2 separate regions of the Homo sapiens genome follow, and region 2 is linked to region 1. Evidence: fine-mapped expression QTL. A gene starts in region 1. The other region holds a variant in brackets. All regions are shown on one strand. Distances are from middle to middle.

Region 1 (8,336 bases):
GGGTTCTGGAAATGGGTCTCATGCTCCTCTGAGGAGAAGCAGGCATTCTCCACACCCTCCCTGGTTGGGGCCACTGGGCCCAGGGGAGCTGATCTCCTTGGGGCTTGGGGACCATTGCTCAGTGTCTTCAGTTCCAGACCAGGGGGAGATGCCATTGGGAAGGAGGGCCCCAGCTCATCCCTTGGCCCCTTGGCAGCTGGAAGAGAAAAAAGAAAGTCAGTTGAATGTAGCAACCTCTCCCTGTTGTGGAGGACATCATACCAGTCCCTAAGCACATGAAGGTGAGTCAGGCACAATTCCCACTTGGGGGTGTCTGCCAGACAGAGGGGAAGACAGGGAATAAGACGATGACAGAACAGTGTGATCCAAGCCCAGATCCCACTCTACCACCGGGTGGGGTATGGCTGTGGGCAATTCACTAATCCTGTCTGGCTTCAGTTTCCCCACCTATAAAATAATACTACTACTACCCTCTAGTTCGCAAAGCTGGAGTAGGATTGAGATAACCTATACGAAGTACTCAGAACACTAAGTGCTCAAAGTTAGCGATGAGTTCCTATTATACTGGAGGGAATGTAGGTAGTGTGAATATCAGGCTCAAATCCCAGCTTCACCACTTGGGCTTGGGCAAGTGATGTGACCTCTCCAGATTCGGTCTTCATCTTATCTATAAAATGGTAATGAATAAAATGCCTCCCTCATAAGGTTGTTGTGAGGATTTCATAAAATAGTGCATGCAAGACCCTGGCCAGTGCAATCCATGGACCTTGTTGTATGAGGGAAGGATGACGGAGGGGTGGGGGAGGGGGTAGAAATGCAGAAGTTGTTGTGGGAACAAAGAGGAAGGGAAGTTTCTGGGAGTTGGTGGCATTTGAGCCAGATCTCAGAAGATGAATTGGATACTTCCCAGCAATGGAAGGTGATGAGGGCATTCTGGAAAGGGGAACAGACTGCCTCAGAGGCCAGCTGGGGCCGGCTCACAGAGGACTCTGAAAGCCAGGCCAAGGAGCCCGAGAGCCATGCAGAGCTGAGGAGCTGGAGCAGGAAGTGCCTCGGCTTCAGAAGAAAGGAGGACTGATGAGATGGGAGGGGGCAAAGTGGAGGATGGGGGTCCAGCAAGGAAGCCAGCAGGTTGGGGATGGCATGGCTAAAAGGGCCAAGAGGAAGGGGCAGACTGGAGAGCCATGACTAGGTCAAAGCCAAATGCCTTTATGTAAACAGAAGTGTGGGGACCTGGACTAGAACCACAGGAGGGGAACCGGGAGGGAGAGGCGAGAAGAGGGACACTCTCTGTGCTGCAAGAGGAGTTACCCCACCCAAGAACCTGAACACAAACCCACCCAGACACAGACAGCACATGTGCATTCCCGCTGAAGGATACTGACTTACAGCCCGGGGACCATATTTGGCTGATAGAAGTTTTGCTTTGTTTTGTTCCTGGCCTGTTCATTTGTTTTTGGTGAATTAGTTGCAAATGTATAAAAAGCAAAAGATTTTAGATTTTACATTTTAAATGTTGGATTCCTGGCTTCTCCTGCAAAATGAAAGAATCTGGCCACCTTAGGCCCCCGTTCCCTTGTAACACTCGCCTGGAGTTGGCAATCGGGGCTCTTAGGCAGATCTAGCCTCTCCCCGACAGGTCCCACCTCAGCCCCCTTCCCTGCCTGGCATGTGTCATTCCTAATCCACAGCAGAACTGCATCATTCCTTGTATACACTGATGGCCTGAGGGCACATACACTCAGAGCCCTAGGCGCACAAGCCATGGGCTACAGAGACCACCAGGTGCAGAGTGGCTCACATGCTCCGGTGTGTCTACGCACACATACATGCACACACACACGATTCTCTGCATTCTCATGCCGGAGTTTATTCTCCAGTGCACTGTGGTTCGTTCTCTGTGTGTGTGTGTGTGTGTGTGTGTTTGTGTGTGTGTGTGTGTGTAAATATGAGCAAATGAAGTGAGGATGAATGGAATGAATGAATGAATGAAACTCAAAGAGCCTCAGTGCAGGAAGACATGTTTTTCAATCTTTCTGACCTTCTTGTCAATATGGACTAGCATCAGACACCTCCTCTTAGCACATATAGGGCCTTTCATGTGAGTACAAAGCTCTTTTCCCTTTACAGCCCATTTCTATCACTACGTCTCTCTTTCCAGAGTCTCAATTTAGTAAATGTTTACCAAGCACCTACTAGCTGTTGAGCCATGTACCCGACACTTCATGCAGGAGTATCTCATATCACCCTCACCAGCCCCACGATCCGGAATTACTGTCTCTATTTCATAAAACATGGCCAAGATCCCATGGCATGTATGGGAGGGTGGAGGACAGGAGTTGAATGCAGATTCCCTAAGAATTATTATCATGTACAAACCTGCAAACTCATACCCCTGTGCTGGTGGCATCACTCCACCAGCCTTCCCTGGCTCTGCATCCCTCACTCATAGACTCTTCATTTTATCCAGCTGTTTATCAGCAACCGTGAGCACCTTGAGAGCAGGCATAAGTTTGAATTCCATCTGGGTCCCCAGCCTGCGCCCAGACTGCTTTTACTTTCCAGTGAATAGACAGAAAAAAGAGATGTGTTTGTTGGTTGGCTTTTTACTCTTAGCACCAAAAACATTTTCCTGAGTGCCCAGCCACAAACAGGGACCAGCAGTGGGTGCCACATGGGTGCTCAGAAGTGGCCCCCACCCACACCCTCAGCACCTTCCACCCAACTCAGCTCCTGGAGTGGCCCAGGAACCCCTTTCCCAGACTGATATATTGATGCCTCCACACCCTGGAAGAAATCTGGAGCTCCCAAATTCTGGGAGCAGAGCTCTCCTTCATGCTGCAGGAACCCAAAACTTTTTTCTTAGGATGCCACAGTGAGAGGGCAGAGAAAAATGAGGATTCCTCTCACCCAGAGTTAGGACATCTCTCTGTTTCATGCCCAGGTTCAGAGATATTCACCAGTTACACAAAGGCCGTGCCCAATTACCCTAACATAAGCAGAAACACACCAACTGACATAGCTGCTCCCGCCCACCATTCACACCCCACGACCCCACCAGTTACTAATTTCATCTGCAGTCAGACAGGTCCTGAAAGGAACACTCCAGTTCCACACACACTCCCCCAGCAGCTGTTCCCACAGCAGTACCCACAGACACCCAGAAGTCACGTAGTGTGACCCTCGGATCTTCGGGCCACGCGAGTACCCCGTCACACGCACACGCGCGTACACACACACACACACACACACACACACACACACAAAGTGCCCCTGGGAGTGAGACCCAAGCCAGATCCACCAAGACCCGCAGGGGCCCAATACCCCACCCGCCGCGCGCACTGACACCCGGAGAGAGGGACGCACAGCGGCTGTGGGTGAAGCTTCACAAAACCCAGTCGATAGACACACGCACGAGTTGTACACAAAGCCTTGGGGCGCGCAGATACGCACACGCAGGTCCACGCTGTTGTACCCAAAGTTGCGCGCAGAAAGCCCCAGCACGCCGGCTGCCCACCGCGCCCGCTCCCGCCGGCCCAGTCCACACCCCCTGCTCCTGCCCTTGCCCACAGACGCGGGACCCGGAAGGCCGAACCGGACCAGGCGGAGGCCCGGGGAGGCCGGGTCCCCTGGTCGCATGTCCTTCGGCGGGCCGCGAGGTCAGGCTCGCCGTCCTTCGCCGCCACTCCCCGCCCCCGGCCCTCGGCCTCCTGCCGCCCCCAGCGGTCCCCTCTCCGCGTGCGTACCTGTGCCGGGCCTCCCTCCCCGCCTCACCACGCTGGGGCGAAGGGCGCCCGGCCGCCGGCGGGCGAGGGTGCGTCCTCTCCGGTGCCCGTCCGCCTTCCTGCAGCCGGCGTACGCCTGCGGGGGTCTCGCCTGCGGGGGTCTCTCTCCTGCGGCGCAGCCCGGAGGGCGCGGGCCCGGCCGCCACCGCCTCGCCCTCCCGGTCTCCCGCCCCCTTCCCGGCCCGGCCCGGAGCCACTGCCGAGGCGCACGTACCTACTCGCGCCGCGCGGAGCTGTACGGCGGCGGTGGCGGCCGCTGGGGAGGCGGGGGGGGGATCCGGGGACGGAGGGACGGGAGAAGGGGCGGGGGCCGGGGCTCGCCGAGCGCCGCGGAGGGAGCTCCGCCCGCGGCCGGCGAGGGCGCCCGGAGAGTTAGCAAGGAGAGGGACAGGAAGGCGGGTGATGGGCTGGGGCGAGGGTGCGGGGGCTCCGATCCACCGTCCTCCCCTCCCCTCCAGGCAGATCTGGATCGCCGGCGCCTGGGCTTAGGGAACTGGGGCTTGGAGCCCGCGGTCCACGGGCGCAGGGGCGGGGCGGGCGGGGGCTGCTGAAGAAGATCCCTCCCCACCACCGGAGAGCCCCTATTGCGCCAAGCGCAGGTGCCTCCCCACTCCTCACCCCCACTCTGCCACTTCCCCTTCCCCCCACCCCCACCCCGCACGCAGCCCCCAGGTAGGACCCCGGGTCCTCTCCGAGGTCCTTAGGTCGGGACGGTCTCCTCGGGCGCTTGCGGCTCCGTGGCTCAAGGGCGCCACCTGAAGGCTGCAAGAAAGAATCCGACGATCCCCCTCCCCCTTTTCTCTGCAATTTTTTTCTCCGTGGGACAGTGGAGTGCTCCGCCCAAGAGGGGTGTTCTCCTGGGGGCATTGCCAATGGCCAAACACACCCTCACCCTCCAAGGCCCAGCTGTGGGGCCTCTTCTCCTGGAACCCCTCCCTGGGCACACACCCACTTACCCCACGGGCCCCTCCATCTGGGCTCTCCTTTTGCCCGCACTGTTTGCTCTTGTCTCTGACGGTCGTGATTTTGTTTAAGGGTCAGCCTCCTCCATCGGATTGGCAGCTCCTGGAGAGCAGGACCCATGTCTGATCACCTAGAAGACCTAGGTGGGTGTGGGTGAACAGGCTGTGAAAAGGGGTGACTTTCACTTCTTTCCTTTACAGGGCCGGAGTTAAGATGAGTCCAGCGAAGTGCCTAGAGTACCAAATTCATGGAGACGTTTCCTCTTTGGGGAACACACGCCAACCCCAGAGACAGCTTTGGTCTGAATCGTGCAGGTTCCGGGAAGACACGGTGACCAGCTGAATCGTGTGGTCTCGGTTAGTACCTCTGGCCTCTGAGCCTGTATCCACTTCTGTCCATGAGGATTGTGAATGTGCAGGCTTTGAGGGCTCTGGGAAGGCCAGCAGAAGTTGGCCATGTGGAAGGACAGGCGAATGAGTGTGCCATGTCCTGCTCCTCGGCCACCTCATGAGCGGAGCCTGACCTGCCCTCCTCCAAAGTTCTGTGCAGCCCTCCCCAACCAGGAGACTGGAAGTCACCCTGGATGATGGATGCCTGTGCCTTCAAGGCCAGCATAGCCTAGCCCTAGGCAGGTCCACCAGGGCTGGGAAGGCCTCCATTTCCTCCCAGCCTTGCAGAGGCCTGGCCCGTTGTTAGAGACTTCAAAGGGATGCTAGCCCTGGCACCACACTCCTGTTCAAATCCCAGCTCCACCCCCACAGCTGGGTGCCCTGGTGTAAAGGACTGCCCTCCTGGAGCTCGGTTTCCTCCTCTGTGAAACGGATGTAGGAAGTGTTATGGGAATGGGATGAGATACCGCCTTTAAAGCACTCACTGTTCCTTCCCTCAGTCATGCGCTGTCCTACCTCAGCCTTTGCGCTGGCTGTTCCTTCTGCCTGGGACGTTTTTCTTTCTGATATTTCCCGCACTCACCCCCTTCCCTCACTTCCTTCAAGTCTTTGCTCAAATGCCACCTTCTCAGAGACGCCATTCCAGGCCATCCTTTCAAAAATAGCAGTGCCCCAGCACTCTTTACTCCCTCACTCTGAATTTTTCTCTATAGCACTTACCAACTGACATTAGTTTCTGTTTGCTTATTGCCACCTCCCCTAAAAAATAAGTGCCAAAAGAAGAGGGTTTTTGCCTGTTTCCCTCCCTGCAGTATCCCCAGACACTAGAAAAGGGGCTAACACCTAGGAAGCTCTGGATAAGTGCTCACTGAATAAAGAACAGAGAAAATGGGCAAATATTATATACTAGTTAGCTAGGTAGACTCCATCCCTACACTCAGGAAGCTTGTATTCTAGTGGGAGAAAAGGATAAGTAAATGTAACATTGCAGTTATAGTAAATGCTACCAAATAAAAGTATAGAGTGCAAGCCTCAAACAAGGGTGCCAACCTAGTCTTGGGGATAGGAATGGCTTCCTGTAAAAGTGTGGACTGAGCTGAGATTAGAAGGATGAGTAGAAGGCAACCAGATAAAGAGGGGAGGAAAGAGAAGTCCAGCAGAGCGCCTAGCATAGGCGAAGACCTTGGGGTAGAAGGAAGTGTGTGACGAGTTTGAGAGTTGCAGGAGACCAGTATGGTTGTCATGGAGGGCCTGATAAGGAACCTGGTAGGAGACGAGCCTGGGCTTAGCAGGTCAGGTCACTGCAGAGCCTTACAGGCCAAGTAATTTGTTCTTTATCCTCAGAGCAGTGGAGAGCCTCACTGATGAATGTAAGTAAAGGGTTAACAAAACCTTTTCCTCTTTTGCATGAGAATTTGACCTTTGGAAGCTCTGTTTCCTGGAAACAGATAAACATATGTCTGCTATGTTACTAAGCAACATTGCTTCTGATAAAAATGACCCCTGAGGAGGAGGCTAGAATGATCCATGTGGCAACAGATTAGAATTGGAGATACCAGAATGAACTCATGTTTAGCTTAATATAGATGCAGATGATTACATACAGAAAGTTATATATATATATAATACACACACACACACACACACACACACACGGGCTAGTATACACACATTTATTTCCTTACTGTCAGGCGAGAGGGCCTAGAAGCAATGATACTCCATAGCAACAAGCACACGTAGCACTGAAATCTTGGTTTCTAATACCATTCTCCAATAAAAGGATCCAAGGCTCCTTGAAGAAATTGCTGTTTATAGGACTTGGGCAGGAAACACTACAAGATGAGCCCAGAGCATCTGATAGTGCCAGAAAGTAAAGAAATGCTACACACACACACACACCACACACCACACACACATGCCACACACACTCTACACACACTACACATACACTACACACACCACACACACTACACACACATGCCACACACACACTCTACACACACACTACACACACCACACACATACCACATGCACCACACACACCACACGCACTACACACACACCATACACACAATACACATACTACACACACACCACACACATACACTACCTACACACACCACACACACTACACACACACCACACACACACACAAATGGTGGGGGTAGGAGCTAACTGAAAGAGTTCCCAATGGCCAAAGCTGGAAAAATTTGAGTGACAAAATAAATAAGGTAATATTGGACTGTAACAAAAAGTATGAAATAAATATCTATGAGTCCATACTGATAAAAATAACTGAACAAACAGGTAGAAAAGAGAAATCTCCCATGCAGAATTCCAAATTCTGTATCTAGATAACTCAGTCCTTGAGGAGGGGAACTGTAACTCCCCATTTTGAAAGTGCGAGGTGCACATAATGACTCCCTTTCCAAGAGTGTTTTATGGAAAGCGCTGGGGTGGCGGGGCGGGGGCGGGGGCAGGTGGGAAGTAACTTTACAGTGGAGAAACTGACAAACGTGATGACCTCAGCCAGGTGATGAAAGTCAACTCCAACAGTCAAATCACGTCGCTAGTAGGTACCTTGGATATGATGCGGCACAAATGGCACTTTACCTCTGTTGTCTTCCTCCCCAAAACCCATAGCTGCAGTCTAGTCATCAGATAAACATCAGACAAATCCCAATGAAGAAAATTCTACAAAACATCTGACTAGTTCTCCTCAAAGGTCATCAAAACAAGGAAAGTCTGAGAAATTGTCACAAACGATAGGAACCTAAAAAGACATAACGACTCAATGTAGTGTGGTACCCTTGATAGAATACTGGAACAGGAAAAGGAAATTTTGCAAAAACTATGGAAATATAAATAAAGTATGGACTTTAGCTAATAACAGTGTATCAGTGTTGGTTAATTGTAACAAATATACTCATGTAAGATGTTAACAGTAGGGGAAAGTGGGTTTGGGGTTGATGTCCTTCGGATGTTTGTCTCCTCCAAATCTCATGTTGAAATTTGATCCCCAGTGGCAGACTTGGGGCCTGGTGGGAGATGTTTGAATCATGGGGGTGGATCCCTCATGAATGGCTCTGTGCTGTCCCCACGGTAATAAGTGAGTTCTCACTCTATTCGTTCACTAGAGAACTGATTGTTAAAACAAGAGCCTGGCACTTTCCTCCCCTCTCCCTCTTGCTCCCTCTCT
Region 2 (8,336 bases), 35 kb before region 1:
ACGTCAAGGAGAGTATTTTGCGGCAATTAGGAACACAGGCTTTGAAGAATGATCAGCTGGGTTCATACCCTGAGCTTACACCTTTCCCTGTCTCAGCACATTTAGCCTCTTGAAGCCTCAGTTTTCTGATCTGCACCTTGGGAATAATTATAGCTGTGTCAAAGGTTTTGTAGGATTGAATGTGATCGTGGATATCACATGTTGACATTCAGTAAATATTCAGTGGTCTAGTAACTGGTCACTGGAAAAAAATATTCAGTGGATGCCCATTCAGGTAGCTGGCAAAGATGAGAACAAATGTGAAGGTGTAATGAGTAGAGGGTCTCTCAAGAGAGAACCTTGTTTTATTTTTTTTAAATACCTACCATCTTCCCCCCAAAACAGATTTGATGGAGGATTAGGTGTGAGAGTGTCAGCCCAGAGCGGGTGTTGGGCAAGTATTTAGGCCCAGGCCCAGGTCCATTATGGACATTGTTTCCGTTATCATCATCATCATCATCATCATCATCATCATCATCATCATCACCACCCTGTGTTGAGGACAGAAGTAATTTCCCTTTCTTGGCTGTTCACCATGCGTTGGCCTGTGAACCGAGTGTGTTAATTTATGGTTGCTTATCTTCTGGACAGCCCTACAAGAAGATCAGTGGCATCCCCACTTTACAGGGGAAGAGACAGTGGCTGAGGGAGGTAACGTAGCTTCTCAGCGTTATCTCGCTGGGAGGGTGAGCACTGGGATTTACCCCGAAGTGGGTCTAACTCAGCAGCTTATGCTTTTCCCACTGCACCTGTCAGCGTTAGTTCATGTAATAAGCAATGTGGTGTACAAATTCAATGTAGTGTAGACTGATTATGGAGAAGCCCATCCCCTTTCTCCTCCTCAATTAAGTCTTTCTGAGGCAGATCTATTTCACAAGAGTAAGGCACTGAACTGGAGAGATGGTTGGAAGAGGAGGCAGAATGTTTAGGAGGCTTTTTCTTAGCCTCTAGCAAATTGACAGCCTATCAGATCTCCCCTCTGTAATCACCTCACCTGCCTCTGCCCCCACTCCCTGCTTATTCCTTGGCCAGCCCCATTTGTCCATGAGCTCAGATAGCTGTGTTGACCCTGATTTCTTTACTATAGCTCCCATCACCACCACTTTGCTCAGCAACCAGGCACTCACACTTCCACCTTTTCCTTTCTCCCTGAAATGCCCAGTTTTGGGGGGAGGCCACAGCAGGAAGGAGGCAAAAAGCAGCACAGAAGCTGGCCTCTCTGGCTGCTGCAGAGTATTAATTATCCCATCACTGAACACCCTTGGCTGGCGCTCGGAGCAGAAATATCAGCCTCTGCTCCTTCCCATAGGACACAGTCCAGTGTCTCACCCCTCACCTTAAACACTCTTGTTTTGCCTCTCTCACACCTGGAAATTTCCAAATACAAACTAAAGTTGGAATTGTCTGCCCTAGAGCGTAAAGAGACTTGTTTCCCTGTGTGTGTAGTGATGTATGGCTGCAGCTTGTCAAAAGATTCTGGGTCTGCTGTGATACTGGGTGCGTCTAGGCTAGGAGTATAGCTAGAGAGGACATTCCATTGTAGTGGAAGATTGGAGGTGGGCAGGTCTTTTCTACTCCTGAGAAGTCTAGGAAAGAATTACTGAAAACAACCATCTGTAAGGAAAATATTTTTTTATCCAGCCTAACTTTTCATTATCATTATAAGTCTAACCTATTTCCTTTTGCTTCATCTGTCCTCTGATAGTCAGGAGACTGTATGCCCCAAATCCTGCTCCATGTTTTGTAAAAAACAGTTTTTTCTATGCTTAACCAGCTTCTCTAAAAATAAATCTTTAGATATAAAGCTCTTATTTATGTCATTCTGAATTCATTTTTAATCCCAACCAATCTGTATCTTTACATATTTTTAAATGTTCCAAATAGTTTGCATTTTGCATTTTCTTTTTAAATTTCATAATCCATTTACTAAAGTGCCAAACATAACTCTTTTAGTATCTGATATTTCATTTTGCTAGTATGCTATGGTTTATATAACTTCTATGGGGTATGTCAAGCATTTCTAATTTGTGATTAATACAGCTATGAACATCCCTGTGTATTAGGTTTTTTTTTCTTTTACTTCCTTGAGTTATATTACTTACACTGGAGGACCTCAAACTTTATGTTCTCAGGAACCCTCTAGCACTCTCAAAAATTATTGAGGACCCCAGAGAGCTCTTATATGGGTTATATGTAGCAATATTTACTGCATTAGCAGTTACAAATGATATTTTCAAAATACACATTTATTCATTCATTTAAAAATAAGCCCATTATGTGTTAATATAAATAACAAATTCCTGTGAAAATATCTCTTCAAAACAAAAAATTTAGTGAGAAGAGTAACATTCTTTTACATTTTGCAAATCTCTTTAATGTCTGGCTTAATGGAAGACAACTAGATTCTCATTTCTGCTTCTGCATTCAGTCTGTAGGGGATATGTTGTTTTCATTGAAGCCTTTCACATATCAGTTGTTGGAAAAAAAGAGGACTAGTTTAATAACCTTTTCAAATAATTCTAGATATTCTTTACTGTTAAACCAACTTGACGAGTAGTAGTTTTTGTAAGGGTTAGTTGTAATGTGGAATCAATCCATACCAGTGAACTTGTTATATATCTGTTACATCAAAATCTGCTGGTCTATCATGCCATTTGAATGGACCTTTTACCCGTGTATAATACTATTGTAGAAGATCGTGTATTTTGGTCATTTGGAAAATACTGATTCACTGAGATATGCAGATCTGCTCAAAGTTGACACATCTTATTATACAATATCATTGCTAATTTTTGCTTGAAAACTTGAATTTTCTCATTGGCAGTAAATAGCATTCATTATTTTCCTTGAAGTAATGGGCTCACATCCTTTTCGAGAAAATGTCCGCTATGTAGCCAAGTTGAATAAGCATGGTTTGTCATTCTTTCAAGTAAAAACAAAAAACAAAAAACTGTTTTCTTTGAAAAAATGACTGCTTCAGCCAGCAGCTTGAACAACTGCACAAGTACTTTTCATCATGACAACATTGTGCCTCTGTGTGCAGTAGAAGTGCTTTATGCAAGGCCAGGTGTGGTGGCCCACACCTGTAATCCCAGCACTTCAGGAGACTGAGACAAGTGAATTGCTTGAGCCTAGAAGTTTGAGACCAGCCTGGGCAACATGGTGAAACTCTGTCTCTATAAATTAGCTGGATGTGGTGGCGTGACCCTGGAGTCCCAACTACTTGAGAGGCTGAGGTGGGAGGATTGCTTGAGCCCAGGAGGTGGAGGTTGTGGTGAGCCATGATCACACCACTGTACTCCAGCCTGGGCAACATGGTGAAACTCTGTCTCTATAAATTAGCTGGATGTGGTGGTGTGACCCTGGAGTCCCAACTACTTGAGAGGCTGAGGTGGGAGGATTGCTTGAGCCCAGGAGGTGGAGGTTGTGGTGAGCCATGATCACACTACTGTACTCCAGCCTGGGCAACAGAGCAAGACCCTGTCTCAAAAAAAAAAAAAAAAGTGCTTTATGCCCGTTTCCCACTTCACGCAGAATATTAAAAAGACATATTCAAAGATTGAAATTTTACAAAACTTGACAATCTATACCTCTTCATCAAGTACATTCTAAAGTGAAGCTGGATGTGGGTGAGTGAGTGGTAAGGGAGGGTGCAATAACGGCCAGGTTAGTGCTGCTGCTTTGAGTCATACT[A/G]TGGCATCAGCAGTTCCACCCACTGTTGCTTTTGCACCGTCAGTGCAAATGTCAACACAGCAAAAAAAAAGCAAATAGCTTCTGAGATAGAATAGTTTTGACCTCATGGGACAGGAGTCCATGAGCCACATTAAAATTTTTTTTTTCTCGAAGTTTACTAGCCATTTGGATTTCATCTTTTGTGAAGAGGTAATCAAATCTCTTGTTCATTTTTCTATTGGCTTGTCTTTTTATGACTTGTTGGCATTGTTTATATAATATATTCTGAATTTAAGTCCTTCATTAAATATATGTATTACAAATGTCTTCCTCCCCTCTGTAGCTTGCCCTTTTACCCTATTAATGGTTTTTTTTAATTATTGTTAAAGCATTCCTAATTTTTATGTAATCTAGCTTATCAGTGCTTTTCCCTTTATGTTTGGTGCTCTTTTGATTTTTGTTTAAGAAGTCTTTGCCTTATGCCAAGGTCATGGAGAAATCCTCATATATTTTCTCCTAGAAGCTTTAATGGTTTACCTTTTATGTTTAGATCTATAATCCATCTAAAATATTTTTTATGTGTGGTGTGAGATTTATATTTTTCCACATTGATATCCAGTTGGTCTAGCACCATATTTTGAAAAGATTATCCTCTACCTATGTTACTTTAATAATTTAATTTTCATTTTTCATTACTTGTGCAACTATTCTCTATTCTTAAAATTTGTTTTCATTCCTTTCGCCTTGGAGTCACATAATATCCCTTTGGTTTTTTCCTGTGGATAGCAAAGTTCAATAACATTTATACAGCTACTGTTTATTCAGTGCCATTGATTCTAGACAAATGCTGGGCATTTAATCCATGTGCTCTTATTTAATCCCCTCAACAATTCCATGAGATTGGTAAGGGCTATCCCCATTTTGCAGGTAAGGAAGCTGAAGTTCATGTACAGTAAGTAACTTCACAACAGTAAGAAGCAAAAGTTGTGTTATAATAGTAAATTATTGAATTCTACTTATGGGACTCAGGCACTACACTTTTGTAAGCATTCTCATTTAATATGTATAACAACCCTGTGAAATAGATACTATTGTCTGTATTTTACACAAGAGAAAGCTAGAGCTTGGAGATTTTCTAACTTGCCCTGGGTCACACATCTGTGAAATGGTGAGGCCAGAATTTGGACTTGAGTCTTATGCCCAAATCAATCTAAGTGTCCATCATGTGCCACTTACTGGGAATATGTCATGAGGTGTGGACCCAGCCTTCAAGGAGCTCACAGTTGATAGGGGCTAATTGCCCTTTTCATTCCAGATCATAAATCTTTTTAAAACAATGGTAGAAGTATGTCTGAGATCTGCTGAAGCACATTAAAGAGTGATTAATCTGAAGGATAGAAGGAAAGTTTTCAGAGAGATGATGCCTGATGAGCTAAATTTTAAAGGACCAATAAAAGTTCTGTGGTATTGAGGGTAATTGACTTTTATGGCAGAGGGAACGATGGGTACCAGTGGGGCTATGAAATCATCTTGTAGAAGTGGGGGAGTTTTTGTTTCACTCATGTCAGCATGTGAAGGGAGAAAAGATGAACATGAGGGCCAAATCACAAGGCCAGTATGTGCTAAGAAGCTGGATTTGATCCATGGGGTGATGGGAGCCATCAATGTTTTGAAAAGTTACGTGGTTGGGACTCGGTTAACCACGGATTTTTTTTTTTCCTCTTGAAGAATCCCAGTCATATTCTGACAGTGGACGTGTTAACATGGTTAATATTTATTGAGCTTTTACTGTGGGCTGAGCAGTTACATTAAATGTAAAGTATATGTAAAACAATATCTTTTAAGCCTCATAAGAGAATGAGGTAGATGCTCTTGGTATCTCTGTTTTATGCAAAAGAAAACTGAGGCAGCAAGAGCTTGACTTGCCCAAAGCAACACATCTTATGAGCATTGGAGCAGGATTCAGCCCTTAGTATTTCCAACTTTTGACACATGTATTGGCAGTTGTTTCAGAAGAAATGAGTTTGGCTTGGATTGCTCCAAGAACAAAGAAATGAACTTGGCTTGGATTGCTCCAAATACTGGTTTGAACACAGTACAGCAGTGGAGCAGAAACAGAGGAGATGACACCATGGGGTAAGCACAGTCCGATGCATATAACCCATGGGGCCAAGATCAGGAGAATGGGAAGCCACTGGACAGGTTTTACAAGGGAGGGACTTCATATTGTTTACATTAAAAAACAAAATAACCCTCTGGCTCCTTTGTAGAGATGGATTATAGAGGGACAAGAGTAAAAACAGACCCAGAGAAGAAGCTGACACAGGCAGCCAGGCAAGAAATAATGGTGGTAGGTGGTAGACTATGGTGGTATATAAGGCAGGTGGCTCTGGGGTATATTTGGAAGTATACCTGACAGGACTTGCTGATGGGTTGGCTTAATGAAGGGAAGAAAACTCAAGGACAATGCAAGTTCTTTTTTTAGCCTGTCATTTCTGATTTGGGACTGCCATAACTAATGCTTCAGTAGACATACTTTTATGCAACTTGGAGCACGTCTCTGAATGTTTCCTTAGAATAGATTCCTATAGAATTACTACATTAAGGACCAAGCCTGTTTATAGAGATTTTGATACAGATTGCTCAGTTGCCCTTTTTCTAAACAGTTGTGTTAATTGACATTCTCACTATGTTTCAATGTCATTTCCCTATCCTTACCAATGCTGGAGTCAGTCTCATTATTCTTCTAAATTACTTAGAAAAACATTGTCTTCATAACATCTGTAAGCTAACTGAACTCAAAGTGTAAGGCCAGTAAAGTGAGGAAAGTGTTTGCAGCATATGTGTGCATCATAAATTGCCACAAATGAGTAGCTTAAAACTGCACCCACTTATTATCTCATAATTCTCTAGGTCAAGAGTATGGATTTGCTTGGCTCATTCAGGTCACTGGCAGAATTCAGTTCCTTGCGGTTATAAGACTAAGGTCCGTATCCCTCTCCCTCAGCTCCATAAGACCTTCTGCATTTCTTCTCATGTGTCTGCCACCTCTTCAAAGCCAGCAGTGCTGTGTTGAGTCTCTTCTTGGGCATTCTTCTTCCTCCACAATCCATGTTCTGTGCTTTTAAGGGTTCCCATGTATTAGATTAGCCCACCGAGATAATGTCCCCTTTTGAGGTCAACTGTGCCATACAACGAAACAATAATAGGATTGCTTTCTCATCACATTCATAGGTACTGGGGATTAGGAGTTGTGGAGTCTTGAGAGGGGATCGAATTCCATCTACCACAATCTGTTCTCTGACCTCTCAAATGTGAAATATATCTTTCTTCCCCTGAGGTTTCCAAGAGTCTTAACCCGTTACTACATCAACTCAGTCTAAAATCTTATCTAAGTCTCATTAGCTTGAAGGACCAAGATCTAATCATCTCAGTCAGGTGCAGTTGAGGCTCCTGAGCACAACTCCTTTCAATCAGTTGACCAAAGAAACAAGTTCTTTGTTCCCATCATATAGTAGTGGAGTGACAGAGGATAAGAAATCTGTGTTTTCTAACATAGAAAAAAAACATGTGCATGAAAGTTATTAAGTACAGTATTATTTGTAGTTACGCATGCATACCCCAGAAACATCAGTGCTTGCAATAGAAAATTAAGTAAATTTTTAAAATTTGCTTCACTTGAGTATGTATTACTTGGCCATTAAAAATGTTAATAGTAAAGACAACTTAGGAAATACAGCACCTATGTGGAGGAAAGCAATGAGATCCAAAATGATATAGTATTGTTACAGTCACATTAAAACATGCTTATGAAAGAAGACATGAAAATAATGCAAAAGTAATCATTGTGTTAGAGTCAGATTATGGGTGACATTTTTCTGTTCTGAATGCTTTACAATTTTTAGCATAATTTATGTATATTTTTTCTTTCTGTTTTTCTTTCTTCTAAAAATCTTTGATCACTTAGCTTAAATGTAGCATTTCCCAACCCTTCTCAGTCCCTGGTTCAGCTTTGATCTCACAGGATATCCTTCAGGGTAAGGAAATGGAAAGGTTTATTGCTCTGTTTGCTCAGGGCCCTGTGACCAGTGCTTCTCTTGCATATGTACACATATACTTCTTTGCAGTTATCAGCATCTTCATTTCCCCAATTCTAAGTTTCCACTCTTAGCTGGACAAAGTTAATAAACTCAGACACCAAAACTTCATGGCTGAATTTGTACTCTGACTGGGAAACAGTCTACCCCCAAATCAGCAGTGTCAGCTTACCTGGGAGCTTGTGAAAAATGCAGAATCTGAGGTCCCACTCCTAGTCTTCTGAATGAGAACCTGCATTTTAGCAGGATCCCCCACTGACTCATGTGCACCTGACAGTTTGAGCAGCACTTGCCTAGGTGGTTCAAATAATGCTGTGGAATTAGGGATTAGGGTCTGAAAATATTTAGGTTGTTGATACTAGTTGTGCCACGAAACCACAGCTGGCACTCCAGAAGCCTGGTGTGCAGACAGTGTTCACACCCAGTGATCAGCCACAGGTACAGATTAGCAGCTGGGAAGGCAGCCATGTTGGCATTCTGTACTGATAAAGAAGGTTCTGGTTCTAGAGTAAGCACATGCCATCCTGA

The links. PIP is the estimated chance that this variant, and not a neighbour inherited with it, causes the effect.
Region 2: its variant is fine-mapped to the expression of TMEM74B in blood mononuclear cells (TOPMed, PIP above 0.99).

What each region holds. Positions count from the first base shown.
Region 1 is chr20:1,181,392-1,189,727 of GRCh38, forward strand. It overlaps TMEM74B (transmembrane protein 74B), which reads right to left and starts at 3,590. Exons shown (of 3, transcript NM_001304748.2): 1 at 2,911-3,590; 2 at 2,380-2,557; 3 at 1-196. The coding sequence starts at 2,410.
Region 2 is chr20:1,146,654-1,154,989 of GRCh38, forward strand. All of the region lies in intron 4 of PSMF1 (proteasome inhibitor subunit 1), which reads left to right. Among named protein-coding and RNA genes, the nearest start is that of PSMF1, 32 kb to the left of the region's middle. The variant A/G (reference allele first, on the strand shown) is at 3,733.